Linked DNA regions of Homo sapiens. The protein of the gene in region 3 interacts with the protein of the main gene of each other region in a pairwise test. Each region holds a gene or a part of one and is shown on either strand. Other genes may lie near its edges. The genes, in order: MAGED1, METTL27, TBX6, TCP11L1, C1orf94, KRTAP11-1 and KRTAP6-2.

Region 1 (3,116 bases), on a different chromosome or scaffold from region 3:
CGGGTGTGGTGGCTCACACCTGTAATCCCAGCACTTTGGGAGGCAGAGGTGGGTGGATTGCTTCAGGTCAGGAGTTTGAGACCAGCCTGGCCAACGTGGTGAAGCCCCATCTCTACTAAAAATACAAAAACAGCCGGGCACGGTGGCACGCACCTGAAGTTCCAGTTACTCGGGAGGCTGAGGCACAAGAATTGCTTGAACCTGGGAGGTGGAAGTTCAAGCGAGCCAAGATTGCACCACTGCACTCCAGCATGGGCAACAGAGTGAGACTCAGTCTCGAAAAAAACAAACAAAAGAATTCGCCCGGTACGGTCGCTCACGCCTGTAATCTCAGCACTTCTGGAGGCCAAGGCAGGCAGATCACCTGAAGTCGGGAGTTTGAGACCAGCCTAACATGGAGAAACACCGTCTCTACTAAGAAGACAAAATTAGGTGGGCGTGGTGGCACATGCCTGTAATCCCAGCTACTCAAGAGGCTGAGGCAGGAGAATAGCTTGAACCCAGGAGGCAGAGGTTGCGGTGAGCCGAGATCACGCCATTGCACTCCAGCCTGGGCAACAAGAGCGAAACTCCGTCTCAAAAAATAAAAAAATAAAAAATAAAGAATTTAACCATGAGGAGTATATGCAATAAATACTCCTGAGGACATAAGTGTTTCTGTATGCACAGAAACACATATGCACAAGTATAGTGTAAGAAACGAGCTTGAGAAGGGCTTTCTTTTATTTTTTTTGAGACAGGGTCTCACTCTGTTGCCCAGGTTGGAGTGCAGTGGCATGATCACAGCTCACTGCAGCCTCAACTTCCTGGGCTCAGATGATTCTCCCCTACCTCAGCCTCCCAAGTAGCTGGGACTACAGGTGCATGTCACCACGCCTGGCTAATTTTTGTATTTTTTTGTAGAGATGGGGTTTCGTTATGTTGCCCAGGCTGGTCTTGAACTCCTGGGCTCAAGCGATCTGCCCACCTGAGCCTCCCAAAGTACTGGGATTACAGGCATGAGCCATTGTATCCAGCCAGGAAGGGCTTTCTAAAGCTGACCAGCACACAGGCAGAATCATAAGAAGCAGGAAAAGCCCCTTAGGCATCACTTACTTCTGCTTTACAAACTCATAGGTGAGAAGTTTCCTTAGATCTCCAAGGAGGGGATGTCTCACCCTGAAGGTAAAAAAAGGAAACCCACAATCAGAGGCTATTACCATGCCCAAAGAGCTTTCCAGAACAGAGGTCAGAGATGAGAAAAGAGGCAGAGAGTTCAGAACTGTTTCCCCATCCACCCAGGTCACATCTTTGGGCTCTGAACATCCCCAAACCAAACCCTCCAGACCCCCAGGTTAATGCAATCCTGGGACCATCCACTGTTGCCAAAGGATGGCACAAACAGGCAAGAGATGAGAGAGCCCAATCATACCCAGGACGCAGTCCCATCTTGCGTAGTGCCTCCCAGAGGACAGCTGCAATGGGAGGCAAGGGGAGACAAGGGACGGAAAATAAGCATGGAAATCAGGCTGTGGCCAACCCCCAGCTGCAGGTCCAGCCACTCACCCTCACTGGCACGGTTGCCATTCATGAAGATGACACCCAGAATCACCAAGAGGAGACCGAGCTTGGGTGTGTCTTTGGTCCTAAGGGAATATAGAAAGAATATATTTTCAGTAGCCATTTGCATGAGAGACCCCAACCAGCTTGCCCATCTAGCCTCCCCAATATTCCTCAGCTAGGGGAGAATTATACCCCAGCTCTGCCCATGACCTGCTATGTGACCCTGAACCCTGGACCCTGATCTACGTGAAACTCCTAGAAAAAAAGCACCACTGAGAAAGGCCATGTTCCACCTTCTTTCCCATCTTACGTTCCCAGTATGCCAGCCAGGGACTCGGGGGTACTGATGAGAATATACAGGTGTTCTTCTTTGTCAATTTCTTTCAGTTGAATCCCAAATTTCTACAGGGGCAAGAAAACAGACTATGAAATTACAACATCTAGCATAAGCTACCCATAGGCAGACACTCATCTCCCTGAGACTTGCCCTAAACTCCCAGTAGGAACCCCATGAATCTTTGAAATCAAGACTTTCCCCATTATTCCTGTACCCCAGGGCTGCCTTCTCACCTTCTCTAGGACAAAGCATGCACGTTCAATGATTTCTGGATAAACATCAGTGTATTCACGGATGATATCTCTCAGCATTTCTGTAGGAGAGAGGAGGGAGCCATCTGAGCCGAGCGGGGGCCACAGAGCAGCAGTCCCTTTGCCAGCCCTGCTGGGGGTAGCACAGTCAAGGTCCTCAAGGGTGGAAAGAGCCAACCATGGAAAGGAGGGGATAGAAGGGGAAGGGTCATACAAGCAGAAGAATGCCGACAGAGCATGGAGTGAAGGGAAGGGCAGAGCTACAAGCAGAAGAATGCTGACAGAGCATGGAGTGAAGGGAAGGGCAGAGCTTGGGGAGGGGACACTGGATGCATACCTGAGCGCTTGATGGGCACCTTTGTGTAGTCCTTAAGCATCAAGTACTTGACCAACTTATTTGCCTGGGAGGGAAAAAGGAAATCATTAAACTTATAAAATATTTACAAAAAAACTTGGTTGAATTACAGATGAGAGGATGACAAAGAAAAGAGCAAGAGAGGGGAAAAGTGACTGGGGAGTTACAGCTCTTACTCTTTCCTGAAGAAGGGCCACATCTCGGGGCTGTGCAGCACCTGGGTTCTGTGAGGCACGCGAGTTGGGAGAAGGGCGCAGGTTAGGCGAGGGGCGCAGGTTCTGCCAGTCAGGTGGAATTGGCCAATCAGCGGGGATCCAGTCAGGTGGTAGTGGCCAGTCAGTGGGAAGTGGCCAATCAGGTGGCAGTGGCCAGTCGGGTGGTAGCGGCCAGTCAGGAGGACCTTGCCAGTCTGGAGGACCCTGCCAGCCCGGTGGGGTCTGCCATCCAGGTGGAGTCTGCCATCCAGGTGGATTCTGCCAGGCCAGTGGATTCGGCCAGACAACAGGGCCGGGCCAGACAATGGGGTTTGGCCAGATCACTGGGTTCTGCCAGATTACTGGGTTTGGCCAAATCACTGGGTTCTGCCAAGCGACTGGGTTCTGCCAGGCTGGTGGGGTCTGCCTAGCTGGAG
Region 2 (2,713 bases), on a different chromosome or scaffold from region 3:
GAGCCAGGATGACAATGGCGGCTTTGTGGAATAGAAAGGCAGGAAAGGTGGGGAAAAGATTGAGAAATCGGATGGTTGCCGTGTCTGTGTAGAAAGAAGTAGACATGGGAGACTTTTCATTTTGTTCTGTACTAAGAAAAATTCTTCTGCCTTGGGATCCTGTTGATCTATGACCTTACCCCCAACCCTGTGCTCTCTGAAACATGTGCTGTGTCCACTCAGGGTTGAATGGATTAAGGGCAGTGCAAGATGTGCTTTGTTAAACAGATGCTTGAAGGCAGCATGCTCGTTAAGAGTCATCACCACTCCCTAATCTCAAGTACCCAGGGACACAAACACTGCGGAAGGCCGCAGGGTCCTCTGCCTAGGAAAACCAGAGACCTTTGTTCACTTGTTTAGCTGCTGACCTTCCCTCCACTATTGTCCTATGACCCTGCCAAATCCCCCTCTGTGAGAAACACCCAAGAATTATCAATAAAAAATAAATAAATAAATAAATAAATTTAAAAAAAATAAAAAAAAATAAAAAGTCAATCAATTAAAAATAAATAAATAAATAAATAAATAAATAAATAAATAAAAGATTGGGGACAAATAAACACTGTAACCTAATCCCATACATGTTACTGTGGAAACAAAAAGTGAAAATAAAACCTAATTAATGTTCCAATAAAAAAAAAAAAAAAAAAGAAAAAGAAATTCTTCCAGCTTCCTTCCCAGGGCAGTCTTTCTGTGTCTTTTACATTGGGAATTCCTTTTTCTTTCTTTCTTTTTTTTTGAGACCCTGTCTTGCTCTGTCACCCAGGCTGGAGTGCAATGGCATGCTCTTGGCTCACTTCAGCCTCCGCCTCCTGGGTTCAAGTGATTCTCCTGTCTCAGCCTCCCTTGCAGCTGGGATTACAGGCACGTGCCACCACGCCCGGCTATTTTGTATTTTTTGTAGAGATGGGGTTTTGCCATGTTGGCCAGGCTGGTCTCGAACTTTTGACCTCAGGTGATCTGCCCGCTGGGGATTATAAGCGTGAGCCACTGTGCCTGCCCACCCCCCCTTTTTTTTCTTTCTTGAGATAGGATCTCACCCTATTTCCTAGGCTGGAGTGCAGCAGAGCAATCATAGCTGACTGTAGCCTCCAACTCACGAGCTCAAGCAATCCTCCCACCTCAGCCTCCTGAGTAGCTGGGACCACAGGTGCTCACCACCACGCCTGGCTAATTAAACATTTTTTTTTTGTAGAGATGGGGTCTTGCTATGTTGTCCAGGCTGCTCTTGAACTCCTGGGCTCAAGGGATCCTCCTGCCTCGGTTTCCCAAAGTGCTGGGATTATGGGGGTGAGCTACTGTGCCTGGTGGGGAATTCTTGACGTAATTCTCCTGGATTGAGGAGACACCCTCCTCACCACTCACCACTCACCCACGCCTCTGCTGGAGGATGTGACTGTGTCTGAATGGACAGGAAGAAAGTTCCCATGTGGGCTTTGGATCTTGGGCTATCCCTTCACCTCTCTGGGCCTCAGTTTCCCAGCTGGCACAGAGAGGATGATTATCTAACATCACAGGAAGGCTGGTATGTGTGTTTGAAGTGCCCTACAGTAAGTGCCGGCTGAATGGCCTTGTCACCTCAGGTCCAGGCACCTATAGTGTGCGTGCCCAGGGTGGCCCCAAGTGCACTGAGAAGGAGAGATGGGGAAGCCCAAGTGACTGGTCTGGGAAGGTTTCCTGGAGGAGGGGGTAAGGAGAAGCAGGGTGTTGCTGATAGAAGGGAGCGCAGTGAGAGGAGAGGCTCCGGAGCAGGGGAGACTGTCACCCATGGGCAGCCTGATGGGGCTGAAGGGCTTAGCAAGCACAGGTTGGGCTAGGAAGTCCGATCCTGGCTGCTTCACCCAGTAGAAAGTTCCTGTCTTCTTGGGCCCAACTTCGACCTTTCCAGCTGACCCCATCCGTGTCCCTGCATTTGTCAGCCTTCAGGGCTCCCCAGATGCCTGCCCAGACCTGCCCAGGCTTAGCCACAGCCTCTGCTGGGCCTGGCAGAGACGGGAGGGAGAGGAAGCATTTTTACCTCTATGATTTCCTGTCCTGCAGCCAGCCAGCGCCTCCTCGTTCTCATGCTCAGCCCCTCTCCTTTCTGCCTTAGGGTGCACCCCATGTGGATTCCTCACCTGGTCTTGGAAATGCCTCTCTTCTCTACATTCATGGAGCAGGACCAGGCACAGTGGCTCATGCCTATAATCCCAGCACTGTGAGAGGCCAAGGCGGGCGATCACTTGAGGTCAGGAGTTCAAGACCAGCCTGGCCAACATGATGAAACCCCATCTCTATTAAAAATACAAAAATTAGCTGGGTGTGGTGGTGGGCTCCTGTAATCCCAGCTACTTGGGAGCCTGAGGCAGGAGAATCTCTTGAACCTGGGAGGTGAAGGTTGCAGTGAACTGAGATTGTGCCACTGTACTCCAGCCTTGGTGACAGAGCAAGACTCTGTCTCAAATTAAATAAATAAATAAATTCTGGGAGCAGTGAGCACTCACGGCTCTCGTGGGGCCACCTCTGACCAGGCCCTGTGCTCTCTGGCCCCTTCCTGGGCCCCAGTGGGTTGGAGATCAAGGCCCAGAGGGCAGGGTCTGAGCCCTCTGCCCAGAGCAGAACAAAGCGCTGAGCAAGAACACAGCAGGAGACGGGAAACACACCTGCCCGGGCAGCGCAATGTGCAAAGTTTACA
Region 3 (4,228 bases):
CCACCGGAATCACATCCAGAAGAAACAAGTAGCGGGCCTCGGGGTCCAGGCCAGTGACTGACACTCGGCAGGCAGGGAACATGCGCCTGTGCAAGGGAGGGGACAGGAGAGGCCTGGAGCTACCCACTGGCCAGGGGTGGGCCCAGCACCAGTAACGGGACATAACAACGGGCTCCCCAGAGCTGTCAGAGAAACATCAAAGGAGGTGGAATTAGAACCCAGAGGGCAGGCTGGAGGCTGTGGCTCACACCTCTAATCCCTATACTTTGGGAGGCCAAGGTGGGAGGATCTCTTGAGTCAGGAATTCAAGACCAGCCTGGGCAACATAGAAAGACCCCATCTCTACAAAAAAATTAAAAAATTAGCCAGGCATGGTGGTGCACACTGATAGTCCCAGTTACTACAGAGGCTGAGGCGGGAGGGTCACTTGAGCCTGGGAAGTCAAGACTACAGTGAGCCACAATTGCACCACTGCACTCCAGCCTGGGCAACAGGGCAAGACACTGTCTCTGAAAAATGAAAAAGGGCCAGGCGCAGTGGCTCATGCCTGTAATCTCAGCACTTTAGGAAGCCGAGGTGGAAGGATCATGAGGTCAGAAGTTTGAGACCAGCCTGGCCAATATGGTGAAACACCGTCTCTACTAAAACTACAAAAATTAGCCGGGTGTGGTGGTGTGTGCCTATAGTCCCAGCTACTCGGGAGGCTGAGGCAGGAGAATCGCTTGAATCCAGGAAGCAGAGGTTGCGGTGAGCTGACGAGATCGTGCCACTACACTCTAGCCTGGGCAACAGAGCGAGACTCCATCTCAAAAAAAAAAAAAAAAAAAAAAAGAAGCCAGAGGGCGGAATCTTAGAGCTGGAAGGTTTTCTTGTCTCATTTTACATTTGGGGAAACAGGACAGACGGGTTAAGTGATCTGTCACACAGCAGGTTAGGAACAGAGCCATGACTCCTACCCCTCAAAGCCTATTTGCAGAAGCAGGGGTGACTAACTTTCTTGCTAGGAGCTTCCTGTCCCCACCCTCCTCTCCTCCCCTGATCTCCAGCACCAGAATCTGCAGCTCTTAGATGAATTTGCTTTAGAAAAAATATACCCTGCCTGCAGTAGGGCCGAGGACTTTCCATGCTAGGGCTTGAGTTCCTGCCCCAGCTAAAGACCTCATCTAAGGTCAAACACTGACCGTGTCCCTGCCTCTAGGGTGACCCTGGACCTAGTCATATACTGACTCCTATTCGAGTTGCATACTGATCCCGAATCCTGGCCAGATTTCCCTGATGCTGGTCAATGGGCTGGCCCTTGACCCCCTGTCCTTGTCTGGATGCTGGTCTAAGCCACACACTAACCTATAACCCAGAGGGACTTCCTGACCCTGCCCCAGACTGACCCATGACCCTTGCCATAGATTGGTCCCTAAACTCAGCCACAGACTCCACAGACTGGCCCTTAACCCTTGTCACAGAGTGACTCCTGATTCCTGCCACAGAGTAACCCTTGCCCCAGGCCATAGTCAGATTCTAGGCCTAGGCAGAGCTCTAGCCCCTCGGGAACCACCCAGTCCTAGCCCCCTCCCCAGGGACTCTGCCTTTCCCAAGAGACCCCCACCAGAAACACGGACCCTGGCCAGCCCCTCACCTCCCAGCTTTGGTGATGATCATTTCTGTTCCCACAGAGCTGAACTCCTTCCATAGCTCCCGGTTCTCCAGGCTCAGGCTGACCCCCGGGAGGGAATGGAGGGCCTCTGGAGCTGATGGGGCCGGCTCAGTGCCCATGGCAGGGGGCAGAAGGGGCAGAGGTGGGTGCGCGGCCAGGGTGCGGGGAGCAGCCTCCATCCCGGAGAGGAAGCAATCCAGTTTAGGGGTGTCCAGTTCTGGAAGCCGGGGAAGAATGAGGAGCCAGCCGAGGGCCACAGCCCCCCTATTCTCCTACCCAGGAGCTGGTCCCAACGCTCACCGGGGTAGCGGTAGCCCTCCGCTAGGGCGGGTGGGAAGCTGGAGTCGGCCCCAGGTTGGGCGGGCCCCAGGCGGTAGCCGGCCCCCAGGGACGGGTACAATTCTCGTGGATGGTACATGTTGTAGTTCCGTCTGGCCTCAGGTCTCGCTGCTTAGGGCCCCCGGTGCTGCGAGATGCCCCCTTTATAGCTCACAGCTCAGCCCCTTCCAGATCCAGGATCACAGCCCCTCCCCTCTTTGGGGCCCTGGAGTTGGGCTGGGGTGGAGACCCCTGGGGCCTCGAAGGGGTCCGAGAGGGGGTCGGATACCTGGGTACGGTCCCCTCCTCCCCTCCCTCCCCACCCCGGGAGGCTTCATTAGCCTCGACCCCCTGCCCCCTCATTACATAATTAACTCCTCGGCTTGATTGATCCCCAGGGCTCGGACAGGGACGCAGTTTGGCGCTTCCGGCCAGCTGGTCCCCGTTCCCACGGTGGGGAGCCCCGGCTAGGGATAAGCTGGGGGGCGGGGCCTGGAACCTGGACGGAGCCAAGAGTCCCGGGACACACCTTGGCGCCCCAGACCTTCTGGCAGGTGACCGCCCTCCGCCCCCCTTCACTTGGAGGCCGGGCCCTGGAGGGAAGCAGCGTGAACAGAGGGAAAGTGCAGGCTAGAGGGACGCGGCCTGAGCTGATTTCACAGGGCACTCGGGGCCGCGAGGAGGCCGCAGCCCAGTCCCGAGCACCGTAGTCCTCCCTGGTCCCCATGCTAAAAAAACCTCCATCCCGAGCCAAGCCTCCAAAGTTCGAAGGCGCTCACAGTCCGACAGCTTCTGACGCCTCGCGCCAGGGTTTCCCGAAGGTCCCGCGCTGGGGAACCCTCGGAACTACACTTCCCGGCAGGCTCAGCGCTGAGGCGCGCCCGAAGGAGCCGGACGGACCACGCGGGGGCCGCTGGGAGTTGCAGTCCGACCGCGAGGGGGCTGCGAGGCCGGCGGCGCGGTTGCCTCCCTGGGACGCTGCCCCTAGGCGGCGGCCAAACGCTGCAGATGAGCAGACGCAGATCAGCCGAGGTCACGGCGTAGGCAGCCAGAGTGGGCTCAGGACCTCCGCCAGCAGTGAAACCGTCCCGGTTCCCGGAGACCCAGCTTGGACGGCTGTGCCTACCCCATGCCCCGCCGGGGCTCAGAACCGCACAGGTCTATAGGGGCGGAAATCTCCGCTTGAGCTCCCCCTTCCCGGATTACACGCGAGCCTGAGCTGTCTCCACTCCATTGTTTTATTATGTACAAACGCTACAGAACGAGGGGGACAGACACGCGTGGGGTAAGAAGGGCCTGGTGGGAGGAGTTCACAGAGCAGACGGTGCACTGGGACCAGGAGAGCAGAACACAGGCCATAACTATAGGGCAGGTGGGGCAGGAACGGGTTAAAAACGAGATCCAAGCCAGCCAGATCGCAGGAGGTGCGGGGGCGTCGTCCCCCTTCTGTTCTCCCCCCAAGGTCACAGTGCATGCAATAAAATATATATACAGGAGCTAGATCCGTCCTCTGCAGGGGCTCTGAGGGTCCAGAGCTCCCTTCGGGTGGCGGGAAGCCAGTGGCGCTCCCTGGCGGCCAGGCCGGGCTGGAGCCACATGCGTCGGGGGAGCGGGGGTCAGTCCCAGCCGTTGTCTTTGATCATGTGGTTGAGTTCAATGATGTACTTCCCCTCTTTGTACTTCTGGCTGCTCTCAAAGGCCTGTTCCTGAAAGGAGGGGCGGGACCGTCATCCCCGGAGCAACAGTCTCACCACAAGGCACTGGGGTTGGGAAGTGGACATGAGTGGCCCCATTTTACATATGAGGAAACTGTGGCCCAGAGGGGCAGGGCCGTATTTCTCACAAACACAGAGTAGAATAGAACTCCCTGACTCAAAGGTACTTTTTTAAGTACTAATGATGGCTCCAACAGAGAAGATAGGGAAGTGGCTAAAAGATTTCACAGTTCAGGGTTTGCAAACTGGTAGCTTCATGGCCATTTTGGCCTACAACATGTATTATGTTTGGACAGCAGACAGTTTAATAAAAATAACTTTAAAGTATTAAAATATAAGTAGGCCTTGCTCACTCCAGTTTGCCCAGCCTGCCCCCAACTCCCAACCCTGCCAATCTATGCTACCCTTTACACATCTACAGTATCTGCTTGGCCTTGCAGGCACTTGAGGTTTTTTTGTTTGTTTGGTTTTGAGAGGGAGTCTTGCTCTGTCGCCCAGGCTGGAAGTGCAACGGCGCGATATCGGCTCACTGCAACCTCCGCTT
Region 4 (3,500 bases), on a different chromosome or scaffold from region 3:
TCCAGGGCTCAGGGCGTGGCCTCTGGAATGTGTCTAGACTTGCTGGCTCCTTGCTTCTAGCACTCCTAGGCTCATAGATCTATTGTATCTTAAACTAGAACATGTTTCCCATTATCTCAAGTAGCAGAACATGTTCCATATGCTGCAAAGAAAATGCTAAACCGTCACAGCTGTAGATCATGTGCTTGATACACTGCTTTCTTTCAACCCCCACATCCTCACCACCTGCTTCTTTGTTTCATCACCAATGAATAGTGCAGGCTTCCAGAGCTCGGGGCCTTCGCAGCCTCCATACTAGCATTGGCCCCCGGACCCACTTTATGCACTCTTAAACTTGTCTTTTTCATTCTTTTGACTCCACTGGACTTCGTCACCTCCACGTTGGGTCTGGCCATCCCAACAACCAACCAACCAATAAAGGGTGACTGAAGACCTAAACCAAAAGTTCTTCTTTAGCAGAAACTATAGGTTGTAAAGCTATCATGTTAGCCATATACATCTACATTACAGCAATCAATCCTGGCCTCTTTATTTTTTTTATTTTTATTTTTTTGAGAGAGGCTTGTCTCACTCTGTCATCCAGGCTGGAGTGCGGTGACACAATCACGGCTCACTGCAGCCTTGACTTCCCCAGCTCAAGTGATCCTCCTGTCCCCGCCTCCCAAGTAGCTGGGACTACAACCACGTGCATGCTCAGCTAATTTTTTTTTTTTTTTTTTGAGACAGGGTCTTACTTTGTCACCCAGACGGGAGTGCAGTGGCGTGATCTCGGCTCACTGCAGCCTCCACCTCCCAGGCTCAAGTGATCCTCCTGCCTTAGCCCCACAAGTAGCTGGGACTATAGGCATGCACCACCATGCCTGGCTAATTTTTATTTTTTGTAGAGATGGGGTCTCATTATGTTGCCTAGGCTGGTCTTGAACTCCTGGACTCAAGTGATCTTCCTGCCTCAGCCGCCCAAAGTGCTGGTATTACAGGTATGAGCCACCATGCCTGGCCAATCCTGGCATCTTTAAATGCAATAGATGACATAATGTTAGTAGCAATAGTAGTAACAACAACTAATGTTTATTAAGCATTTATTACCTGTGAAGCACTGTTCTAAGTGCCTTATAGGAATTCATTTAATCTTTACTGCTACCCCAAGAAATATTGTATTTTCCTCATTTTAAAGACAGGAAAACAGAAGCTTTCTAACTACACATATTGGAGTCAGGCCTGACAAATGCATGATAGACTGTGCTAGCAACAACATGTTTCCTTGGACACAATTTGACCTAATAGTTGATTTATTAAAATCTATGTGATAATAAATCAGAATAAAATAGGGTCCATTAATGTTTGCTAGAAGAATAGTATGTTGACTAATAAATTGCCCGGGAAGGGCTTTGATCATTTTAGAAGAAACACACCCCAAAACCCAAAAATGTCTGTACTTTTTCCAAATACGTACAACTACTGATCATCTACAATTTAAAGGGATAACATCAATACCGACATTCTTAGACTATGACATTCCCTCTTAAAAACTTGCATTTTTGGACTCACTTCAAAATGCTTAAGGTACTCTTCATAAAAGACGTGAGTTGAGGCAACCACTGGGAATGCCTGAAGATATTGCCACCCTTTCATTTAAGAGGCTTGCTCCTTGCCAGGGATCTGAAATGACTTCACCACACACATTTAGCAAACTGAATCCCCTCAAGCTTGTGGGAACTAAGCCCCCAGGCAGAGAATTAGGGTGTGGTGAACTTACTCACATTTTTTTTTAACCTGCACAAGCACAGTCCTGGCTGGAATTAGCCTCAGACTTTTCAAACACTCTTTCAATACAAGCTGCAATTTATACTCCACCCTCCTATTTCTCAGAGCACTTCAGAGACTGGAGTGTCACTGAGGCTGGAGAAAGACAGGAACGTTCTGGACATTATTCTAAATTGTTAATTTCCCATGCAATTGAAAATCCACAAGTAGCTAGGCTGCCAGCTGAGGAACTGCTATTATTCCTAAATGCTACATTGGCAATGTTATATTATTAGAACCTAGCTCACGGCCACATGCACAAGGAGGCCTCATAAAACCGTCACCTGAAAACAATGACAATATTGCATCTAACCAAAGTCAAATTTGCTTACAGTGAGGTCTCTGCACTCTTTGGGGGCTGGAGGAGTCTGACTTTATTGCTTTTTGTAAGGCTTCATCAGCACCTTCCACAGCATCTTCGAGGCCTTCCTCAGAATCATTGGATTTTGATTTTCCTGCTTCATTTACATTGGACTTGTCAAGGTTTTCAGACATTCTCAATTAAGTTTATTCACTTTCCTAGGAAAGAAAAAAACAAAAAAAAAGAACTAAAAGTATTCTAGCTCTGTCACCAACTAGCAATGTGACTCAGGGCAAATCATTTAACCTCTTTGGGTTTCAGTTTTCTCGTTTGTAGAATAAATGAGCTTGCTAAGATCTTATCCAGCTATATTCTACTTCAATGACTAAACAGATACTTGTAAAATGACATTTGTAATTTATCAGATTTCTGGATCTCACGTAGTAGTTAGTTGGAATATTTTTGTCCTACTCCTAAGTAGCATGTTTCAAGAATACAGGGCCTTAAACTATTAGAAGACACACTCTAAACTACCTGCTGCTACAATTTTAATCAGTGATTCAATCTTAAATTCTTTACTTTCATTCCTAAGAGCAGATAGGTAAACTCCTTGGAAATAATGCTTTTAATTGGGCTTACAAGTGAATACACTGGGCTAAAGGGTTGATTCCTTGATATTATCATGTGAATAAGATACCCAGAGATGACAGAAACTAGAATTTTTTTTTTTTCCAGATGGAGTTTTGCTCTTGTTGCCCAGGCTGGAGTGCAATGGGGCAATCTCAGCTAACTGCATCCTCCGCCTGCTAGGTTTCAGCAATTCTCCTGCCTCAGCCTCCCAAGTAGCTGAAATTACAGGTGGGTGCCACCACGCCCAGCTAATTTTTGTTTTGTTTTGTTTTGAGACAGAGTTTCGCTCTTTCATCCAGGCTGGAATGCAGTGGTGCGATCTCAGTTTACTGCAACTTCCACCTTCCGGTTTCAAGTGATTCTCCTGCCTCAGCCTTCTGAGTAGCTGGGATTATAGGCGCCCACCACCATGCCTGGCTGATTTTTGTATTTTTAGGAGAGATGGGGCTTCACCATGTTGGCCAGGCTGGTTTCGAACTCCTGACCTCATGATCCACCTGCCCTGGCCTCCCAAAGTGCTGGGATTACAGGCGTGAGCCACTGCGCCTGGCCTAATTTTGTATTTTTAGTAGAGACGGGGTTTCACCATGTTGGTCAGGCTGGTCTCGAACTCCTGACCTCAGGTGATCCACCTGCCTCGGTCTCCCAAAGTACTGGGATTACAGCCATGAGCCACTGCGCCCTACAGAAAACAGAATCTTATGAAATGTTTAAGAGGAATGTGTGGGGCAAATATTTTTATTACCTTCTTGCCAGTAATTAGGAA
Region 5 (3,500 bases), on a different chromosome or scaffold from region 3:
CGCCCAAGAAACCTACATGTCCAGCCGAGAAGAACTTGCTCTATGAGTTCCTTGGGGCCACCAAGAACCCAAGCGGGCAGCCGAGACTTCGAAACAAAGTGGAAGTGGATGGGCCGGAGCTGAAATGTGAGCTGACCTACCCAGGGAGGGATTGGAGGGGAGGGGGTTGCAGTGACCCTCACAGGCTTCAGGGTGGCTCTGTCACCAAGTGGCTGTCTTATCTACTGCCTTTCTAGAGGTGTCAGTTTTTAAACCCATAAAATGGGGGCAATGACTTTCTCCCCATATCCCTTGTTGGGAATACAGTTGCTAGAGAAGTGTAGTTGGCTTTCAAGGGTCACGTCAGCATTATTAATGGTCACTTCTGAATATAGCCCTGACCCAGCATGTATTATATCCTCTCAAATTGCCCAAGCCAAAACAAAAGATCCTTGCTTTAGATTATTTCTATATTGAGATTATGTTCCCGCTTTCTTTTCCTACAAGGGTTCTAGTCAAACCTCTTTTCCCAAAAGGATGCCAATAAGGGGAAACTGAGGACCCATTTCTGATTTTATAAGCCCCCACAACATCTTGTAGAAAGGAAGAATCCAGGATTCTGATCTTGAAACAACTCAACCTAACTTCATTTGTTTAGACCAATTTTGAGTCACTGCATGCTGAATTATTTAATGTTTTAAAATATAATTTTTAAAATTCCCATATAGATACAACAACCTGTGAAAGTTTCTTAGTGTTGCCAAATATATGTCCTTAGGGAGGGGCTGCTTTAATCATTTGATAAGGATGAATTCCAATGGCATAGCAATGGTTCACATAAAGTTGGATTTTTCCAAAGCAGTTGAAAGAATTTCATTTTGTAAGTAGGTGAAATATAGGCCTAGCAATCTGGCTTATTGTATTCCCTTGCTAAATTGCCTTCTTTACTAGTGAATGATGGAAAGAAAAGCTCCAAGCCAGACCTTCTGGGATTTTCATCCCTTCCAAACTGGCAAGGTGTGAACTAATGATGTTTACCTATAGTTGGAAATGTACTAGAACTTTGAAGAACCCTCTTGGAGCTTAAAGGACCTGACCTGTGAGACTGTGAATCCCTAAGGAAGTTGCGATGCTGAAGGTGTCCTGGCCTCTCCCTGCCTCCATCACTGACCCGCTTTGCCTCTCCTGTGACTTGCAGTTAACGCACCTGTGACGGTTGCTGACAAGAACAACCCGAAGTACACAGGGAATGTTTTCACTCCACACTTTCCTACAGCCATGACCTCAGCAACCCTGAACCAGCCACTCTGGCTCAACCTGAACTATCCACCTCCACCAGTGTTCACGAATCACTCTACCTTCTTGCAGTATCAGGTCAGTGAGCTGGCCTGGCTCTCCTGTGGACATCCACGGGGGTTTTGGCCACAGAGAAGGAGTGGCTGGCAGGGGGTCTATTTCACAGAGTCTTTAGACTCCTCTGAATCCCTTCCCTACATGCAAGAGGCTTCGCTGGGGCTATGGAAGGGCGCTGTCAACTTGTCAGCTTGTTGGTTATTTTTTTCATTGTAGTCACATCAGATCTACCCCTTGGTTCATGTGCATGCGTGCGCACACCTCCACACACACACACATATGTATATTTAGTCCTAACTTTCCATTGTCCGAATTCCAGTTCACACTGTGCTCTTTATTGCAGAGTCTCTTTGCTAGTTGTGGCTGGTTAAGTGCTTGGGCTCCCAGGAGAAGATGATGTCACAGTCCTTGTTTCCCACCTCTCTCCTGTGACTTCCTTTGAAGTTGGATGACATATATCCCAGATTATTTGGGACAGTCCCAATTTAGGTCTTCTGTTCCAGAATAATATGAATGGCATCCCTTTTCACTCTCAAGTGTCCTGGTTTGGACAACAAATTACAGTCAGCCCTCTGTATCCATGGGTTCCAAATCCACAGATTCAACCAATCTTGGATGGAAACTACTTGAAGAAGAAAACAACAACAACAACAACAAAATACAACAACAAAAAATAATGCGAGTAAAAGATAATACAGTATAATAACTATTTACATAGTACATTATTAGGCGTTGTTAGTAATCTAGAGATTAAAGGATACAGGAGCATGCGCATAAGCTACATGCAAATACTATGCCATTTTATATTAGGGACTTGAGCATCCTCATATGCCATTTTATATCAGGCACTTGAACATCTTTATATGTCATTGTATATCAGGGACTAGATCATCCTCATATGCCATTTTATTTTATTTGAGACAGAGTCTCACTCTATCGCCCAGGCTGGAGTGCAGTGGCATGACCTTGGCTCACTGCAACCTCTGCATCCCAGGTTGAAGCGATTCTCCTACCTCAGCCTCCCAAGTAGCTGGGATTACTGGTATGTGCGCTAATTTTTGTATTTTTAGTAGAGACTGGGTTTCACCATGTTGGCCAGGCTGGTCTTGAACTCCCCGCCTCATGTGATCCACCTGCTTCCACCTCCCAAAGAGCTGGGAGTACAGGGGTGAGCCACCGCACCCGGCCCTCAAATGCCATTTTATATCAGAGACTTGAGCATCTTTGTATGTCATTTTATATCAGGGACTTGAGCATCCTCAGATTTTGGTATCCACAGGGCAGGGGAGGGAGGGTGGTCTTGGAACCAATCCTCTGAGGATACCGTGGAATGAGTGTATATGGCCACCTTACTTAAACTACACCAAGCAGTCTTAGCTTTGTACCAACCAAGGTGGCTTGGCACACATTCTTGTTCTTGGGATCATAGCTAAAGGAGAAAATCAATGGCCAGACACAAAGGGACAGTGAAGCACCTGTAGCAGGGCTGGAAATTCTACTCACAGAACTTATTTATGCAGGGAAAATGTAGTTTCTTTATTTTGTCGATTTAACTTAATATCCCTTAAGAGCTGCCGCCCACTGGGTAGAAGGAGGGAAAAATTAAATAAATGTCCACTCTGGTTTAAGCCTTAGCCCAATCCAATAACTTAAATAGTCCCTTTAGGTAGAACTCAATTTTTTCAGGAAAGATTCTCCATGCCTAAGATTTCTGTCTTCTGTTCCTCGCACTGGCTTCTCTCCAGAATTGTATGTCATTGTATGGGGAAGGGCAGGAACTCAAATTTGTGCACTCAGGACCTTGGCAATTTGCTGCCCCAGCCTGGCCCAGCACAGCCTGAAGTGAGAAAGCAAAGAAGGAAATACTTCCAACTCGGCTTGTCCTGTTGCTATGTCCCTTCCCCGCTCTCCACTCCTAGGAACCCTATGTCATTCTTTCCCTTTCAACACAGCACAAACCTTATGTCCTATTGGGAAAGGGGATTGGCTCTTCTGCATATAAAGACTCTTCAAGCTGGTCCACCAGGCTTAGTTTCTGAATCTTAAAGGAACTTAGCAAAGTCTCTCTCTGTTTTGTTTTCAAGCTTTTTGTTTGTGTGTGTGTTTGCTAAAGAGAACAAGTACCCGTCCCCTCCCGAGGGAGGGAAAGCTCACACCCCATTGTGGAG
Region 6 (2,831 bases), on a different chromosome or scaffold from region 3:
TTCTGATGAGTCCTGACATAACGCTGTTTGCTTTGTGGATATTTAAAACATAGCTTACCTGTAGCCCTCAAATACATGGAAATCCATTTTATTCCCTTACGCTCCCTCATGTAAGCTAGTTTAAAAATGAGTCAGATGCTACAGCTGTTTTGGGACAGAAATACCACTGACCACTTGAAGCGATGTTGAAGTTGCTTATTTTGCCAGAGTTGAGGCAGTTTATTCATCTATGTTCAGGTGGACCCAAACGAGCCATCATTCTGGTGTTTAAAATTCATTATATTGTAGTGAGATGAAATAAAATAGAGTGATATCCCTATAGCTTCCCCAAGCATAAAAAGAATAATTAAATATAGCACACTCTTCACACATCTCTTCATTACCAAACATTGATTAAGTGCCTGCTTCCCCCAGCTCTGCCTCCCCCTTATCCCTGATGGAGACAATGACCTTGAAGAGCCTTTAGTTTGTCCATAATTAAAATGCATTCTATCTATATGTGTGAAAATAAATATCTTTTGAACATATTGAACAAATTGGGAGAAAGACACTGTACCCTTTCAAATTAACATTATGATAATTTTAAAAATTAACTAAGCCTTTTCCACTGGCATATTAATGAGACCCAGGAGTCACTATTATCCACTGTTATTAAATTAAACATTTTAGGAATAAAGCTCATCCAATTTACTTAGAAAAGGTCTTGGCTACAAATACAGTTGCACTTAGTTAGCTTCTAATTTGCTTTGTTGGTTGAACATAAAGGGTGGGTCCCACTGCCCTCTAGCCTTCCCACGGGCATCTTGTTTGAGTCAGTTGATTAATTTTGAGAGCCAGCTCAGACTTTGGATACAAGTCTCTGTGCCCTTTGTTCCTGTCAAGTGTTGTCACTGTTGTCTTGAAACATATTCAAGGAGGCACCTTCCCAATGAGGAGCTCCGTTAGGTGTGGTAGAGTGACTGATTAAGTTATGTTTAAAAGATATTAAGTCCAGTGACAAATGAAACAGGGCATGGGCTTGTAATTGGTCCTGGTAGGGAGGGAGAGAGTGTGTGATGGTAGGATGGTGGCATCTTTGGTAGGATGAGTGTCAGGTCAACACTCATCATAAGCAAGATGAATGAGGGACAACGTGTGGGCTGGGATGACCAATAGCTTTGAAGCTGCCAACCAGCCTTCTTAATCAGACTAAGTACAGTACAGAAGACTTGTGATTTAGTTACCAAACTACTAAACTTTCTTTATGAGGGTGAAGGCTTCTTAAGAGACAATTAATGTGTAGATTCACAAGATGTTCTAAGGCAAACTGGTCTGAGCCAAAGAAGCCACGGAGACCAGGGAGAGAGCCCCACCCACCAGCAAGGATATATAAAAGCTCAGGAGTCTGGAGTGACATTCACAACTCAGGAGGTAACTTCAGCAAGCTACCTGCAGCCCTCTGTCTGACATCATGTCCTTCAACTGCTCCACAAGAAATTGCTCTTCCAGGCCCATTGGAGGACGCTGCATTGTTCCAGTGGCCCAAGTTACCACGACTTCCACCACTGATGCTGACTGCCTGGGCGGCATCTGTTTGCCCAGTTCCTTCCAGACTGGCTCTTGGCTCCTGGACCACTGTCAAGAGACCTGCTGTGAGCCCACTGCTTGCCAGCCAACCTGTTACCGGCGAACTTCATGTGTCTCCAACCCTTGCCAGGTGACTTGCTCTCGACAAACTACCTGTATTTCCAACCCCTGCTCAACTACCTACAGCCGGCCGCTCACCTTTGTCTCTAGTGGATGTCAGCCCCTGGGAGGCATCTCCAGTGTCTGCCAACCAGTGGGCGGCATCTCTACTGTCTGCCAACCAGTGGGAGGAGTCTCTACTGTCTGCCAGCCAGCCTGTGGGGTCTCCAGGACGTATCAGCAGTCCTGCGTGTCCAGCTGCCGAAGAACCTGCTAAGTGTGTAGGAGCCAGTGAGCGAATCAAGACTCCACGACCTGCCAGCTGTTTCCAGGATCTTCCAGCATGCTGCTTGTCCCTGAATAGCTCTTCATAGCTGACCCTTCTTGTGACCGCCTGACTGCTGGCTACTATCCATGCACACGCTGTCTTTAGCACTCTAAAATTTTTCTGGCCAGCCCTAAGCTTGTTTTAAGGGTTGCTCACTGGTGCTGTGTATGCCTCTGGATGTGTCCAGAAGCTTTACCATCCACACCCCAGTCTCTGATGCTTTTGACATGTTTTCACCTTGCTGCTGTATCTCCTGGCCTCTGCTTTTGTGTCTCACAAAAACAGAGCTTGTCTCACCATGTATTTCTCAATAAACCTGCATTAGTTGGCATTGCAAATGTATGTCTCAGCAGAATTCTTTTTTAAACATTTCAACTTTTAATTTAGTTTTTGCGGGGTACATGTGCAGGTTTGCTACAGGGGTATACTGTGTGATGCTGAGGTTTGGGGTATGATTGAACCCATCTGTCAGGTATTGAACATAGTACCCAATAGGTAGTTTTCCAACCCTTTTCCTCTTCCTCACTCCCCGCTCTTCCAGTTGCCAGTGTCTATTGTTTTTATCTTTATGTCCACGTGTACCTAATGTTTAGCTCCTACTTATTAGTGAGAACAGGTGGTATTTAGTTTTCTCAACAGAGCTCCTTGTTTGCAAGAGTCTTTGCTGATCAGGGTCTGATTTTTTTTTTCCTGAGCCTAGAATATGGGCTTAATCATTATGCCCTGTGACCAAACCAAGGATTATCTTATATTTTACTTGTTCAGAGAGAGTCTTCAGCTGTGCGGTGAAGTAAGGGCTATGATTTTTCTTTTCTTTTCTTTCTTTCTTTTTCTTTTT
Region 7 (2,024 bases), on a different chromosome or scaffold from region 3:
AAAGATTTATTGGCATCATGACTCCCTGAGATGGCACAAGACAAGAGTTACATCTCTTCCCAAATGTATAACCTCAATCTACATATGAGGAAACCTTAGACAGATTCAATTGGGGAATATTCCACAAAATATCTGGCTCTCTAAAATTGTAAGGTCATAAAAGCCAAGAAAAGACGAATGAACCATGAGCAATTGGAGGTGACTAAGAAGTATAAAAACCAAATGCAATGTGAATTGGATCCAAGAACAGAAAAAAAGAACATTAAAATAAATATGTGAATAGTGCTACAATGAACCATGGTCCTAGAACTTAAAATAAAATAAGTTAATAATAACAGAAAAATGGTAAAATAAAGTCTGCAGTTTAGTTAAGAATACTGTACACAGTTAATTTCTTTGGTGTGATAAGTGGATTATGGTTATGAAAGATATTAATATTAGGGATGTTGAATGATGGATATATGGAAATTTTCTATACTATTTTGACAACTATCTCTATGCCTGAGATTATTTTAAGATAAGAAGTTAAAAGAGAATATAAAACTATTGTTCCATTTCATTGACTTGGTCACTTATTAATTCTTTTATAAATCAAGAAAATAACTTACATTTTCTTGTTCTTCCGTAGAGGTTGAACATAAAGGAAAATTAGACTCACTGGTATAAGTAGAAAAATACAACAAATTTTTCTCAGATCTGGTTTTCTAGAATTTTTAATTAGTTGAATTATTATCAACATCATGGCTTTAGTATAGAAAAGACACTAAATCCCTGAAAAAAGTATTATTTGGATAAAGAGAGCAGAAATACTAAAAGGGCAAAGTTATTGTTTGCTGAATGTTGTGCAAAAGAGTACAATTAATTGGGGCCTAGAGCAAATAAGAGTGTAACTAACAAAAGTCTTTCTTGATGTAAAGGATGGCTATAGAAAGTCTAGTTTGAGGCAGGATTATATGAGTGTGAGTGTGTGAGGTCTCCTTTCATCAGAGCCCTCAATCAGATAAGGGGAGCCCAAATTGCAAGGCCAAACAAAACAAGCCTCCTTAATACCTCTGCAGCATTATCTTACAATTGAGAAAAAACAAACTAATTATATTAGTCAAAAAATTAGCCAGTGGTATGCTACCTCTGCTGGATCATTCCCATCCTGAGGCATATAAAAGGACTTCTACAGGAAGTATCCATACTGAAGTCACCTACACTCCTTCCTACCCAAGGACAACCTCCACAACCATCACGATGTGCGGCAGCTACTACGGAAACTACTACGGCGACCATGGCTATGGGTGCTGTGGATACGAAGGCCTAGGCTATGGCTATGGAAGCCTGCGCTGTGGCTATAGCTCCTGCTGTGGCTATGGTCATGGCTACGGCTCCCGCTTCTTCTGTGGCTGTGGCTATGGATGCGGCTCTGGCTACTACTATTGAGGACACCGTGGGAGACTCATCCTCTATCCTGTGACATCGGGATTCACCAATTCTGAACCCCGTATGCTCTGAGCTCGGGGCTGGATGAAGATTATCTTATATTAAAAGTTTCTGATGTGATTTATCTGAAGACTGACCCTCCCACCCCCAGTACCCTCTGGATCTAGTATTTTCAACTTCCTTTTCTGCATTTAATGCATGAAAATTAAAATAATGTAAAATTCATCCTATGAACTCCTGTGGTCTCTCATCAAGATGATGCTGTTATAGATCTTGCTTTTTGATTTTCATGCAGGAACTTATTTTCTGTTTTCCTAATACACTTTTTCAATCTGGAATTACCATCCTGATTTTCTTTTCATTAGTATCCAGTATTTATCTTTTTAGCTTTCTTCCCAATTTATGTTAACCTAACAATGTCTCAACGTAACCCATGTTATCACTGCTTCAATAGAATAGAAAACCGAGCATGAACAGAGCAGAAAACCGTGCATCATTTATGGGTTGATTATTTGCGTATGAAAATCATTTACTGTCAAACTTGTTCTATGTAGTTCATATCACAACTCTACATAAATAATTTATAATCTAAATAA

The links.
Region 1: the proteins of TBX6 (region 3) and MAGED1 interact in binary tests that used the Homo sapiens proteins (3 or more experiments, as listed by UniProt).
Region 2: the proteins of TBX6 (region 3) and METTL27 interact in binary tests that used the Homo sapiens proteins (3 or more experiments, as listed by UniProt).
Region 4: the proteins of TBX6 (region 3) and TCP11L1 interact in binary tests that used the Homo sapiens proteins (3 or more experiments, as listed by UniProt).
Region 5: the proteins of TBX6 (region 3) and C1orf94 interact in binary tests that used the Homo sapiens proteins (3 or more experiments, as listed by UniProt).
Region 6: the proteins of TBX6 (region 3) and KRTAP11-1 interact in binary tests that used the Homo sapiens proteins (3 or more experiments, as listed by UniProt).
Region 7: the proteins of TBX6 (region 3) and KRTAP6-2 interact in binary tests that used the Homo sapiens proteins (3 or more experiments, as listed by UniProt).

What each region holds. Positions count from the first base shown.
Region 1 is NC_000023.11:51,896,623-51,899,738, reverse strand, and holds part of MAGED1 (melanoma-associated antigen D1), read right to left. Parts: coding exon 2,662-3,116; intron 2,532-2,661; coding exon 2,468-2,531; intron 2,193-2,467; coding exon 2,113-2,192; intron 1,945-2,112; coding exon 1,853-1,944; intron 1,626-1,852; coding exon 1,546-1,625; intron 1,455-1,545; coding exon 1,412-1,454; intron 1,159-1,411; coding exon 1,096-1,158; intron 1-1,095. UniProt on the Homo sapiens protein: Involved in the apoptotic response after nerve growth factor (NGF) binding in neuronal cells. Inhibits cell cycle progression, and facilitates NGFR-mediated apoptosis. May act as a regulator of the function of DLX family members.
Region 2 is NC_000007.14:73,836,804-73,839,516, forward strand, and holds part of METTL27 (methyltransferase-like protein 27), read right to left. Parts: intron 2,235-2,713; exon of another isoform or gene 2,057-2,234; intron 1-2,056.
Region 3 is NC_000016.10:30,089,125-30,093,352, forward strand, and holds the start of TBX6 (T-box transcription factor TBX6), read right to left. Parts: upstream 2,801-4,228; 5' UTR 2,749-2,800; intron 2,411-2,748; exon of another isoform or gene 2,118-2,410; 5' UTR 2,070-2,117; coding exon 1,952-2,069; intron 1,869-1,951; coding exon 1,634-1,868; intron 87-1,633; coding exon 1-86. Other genes in the region: YPEL3 (protein yippee-like 3), read right to left, coding at 3,586-3,675. UniProt on the Homo sapiens protein: T-box transcription factor that plays an essential role in the determination of the fate of axial stem cells: neural vs mesodermal. Acts in part by down-regulating, a specific enhancer (N1) of SOX2, to inhibit neural development.
Region 4 is NC_000011.10:33,042,572-33,046,071, reverse strand, and holds part of TCP11L1 (T-complex protein 11-like protein 1), read right to left. Parts: intron 2,323-3,500; 5' UTR 2,299-2,322; coding exon 2,136-2,298; intron 1-2,135.
Region 5 is NC_000001.11:34,200,907-34,204,406, forward strand, and holds part of C1orf94 (uncharacterized protein C1orf94), read left to right. Parts: coding exon 1-126; intron 127-1,177; coding exon 1,178-1,353; intron 1,354-3,500.
Region 6 is NC_000021.9:30,880,144-30,882,974, reverse strand, and holds KRTAP11-1 (keratin-associated protein 11-1), read left to right. Parts: upstream 1-1,394; 5' UTR 1,395-1,450; coding exon 1,451-1,942; 3' UTR 1,943-2,331; downstream 2,332-2,831. UniProt on the Homo sapiens protein: In the hair cortex, hair keratin intermediate filaments are embedded in an interfilamentous matrix, consisting of hair keratin-associated proteins (KRTAP), which are essential for the formation of a rigid and resistant hair shaft through their extensive disulfide bond cross-linking with abundant cysteine residues of hair keratins.
Region 7 is NC_000021.9:30,598,090-30,600,113, reverse strand, and holds KRTAP6-2 (keratin-associated protein 6-2), read left to right. Parts: upstream 1-1,211; 5' UTR 1,212-1,239; coding exon 1,240-1,428; 3' UTR 1,429-1,524; downstream 1,525-2,024. UniProt on the Homo sapiens protein: In the hair cortex, hair keratin intermediate filaments are embedded in an interfilamentous matrix, consisting of hair keratin-associated proteins (KRTAP), which are essential for the formation of a rigid and resistant hair shaft through their extensive disulfide bond cross-linking with abundant cysteine residues of hair keratins.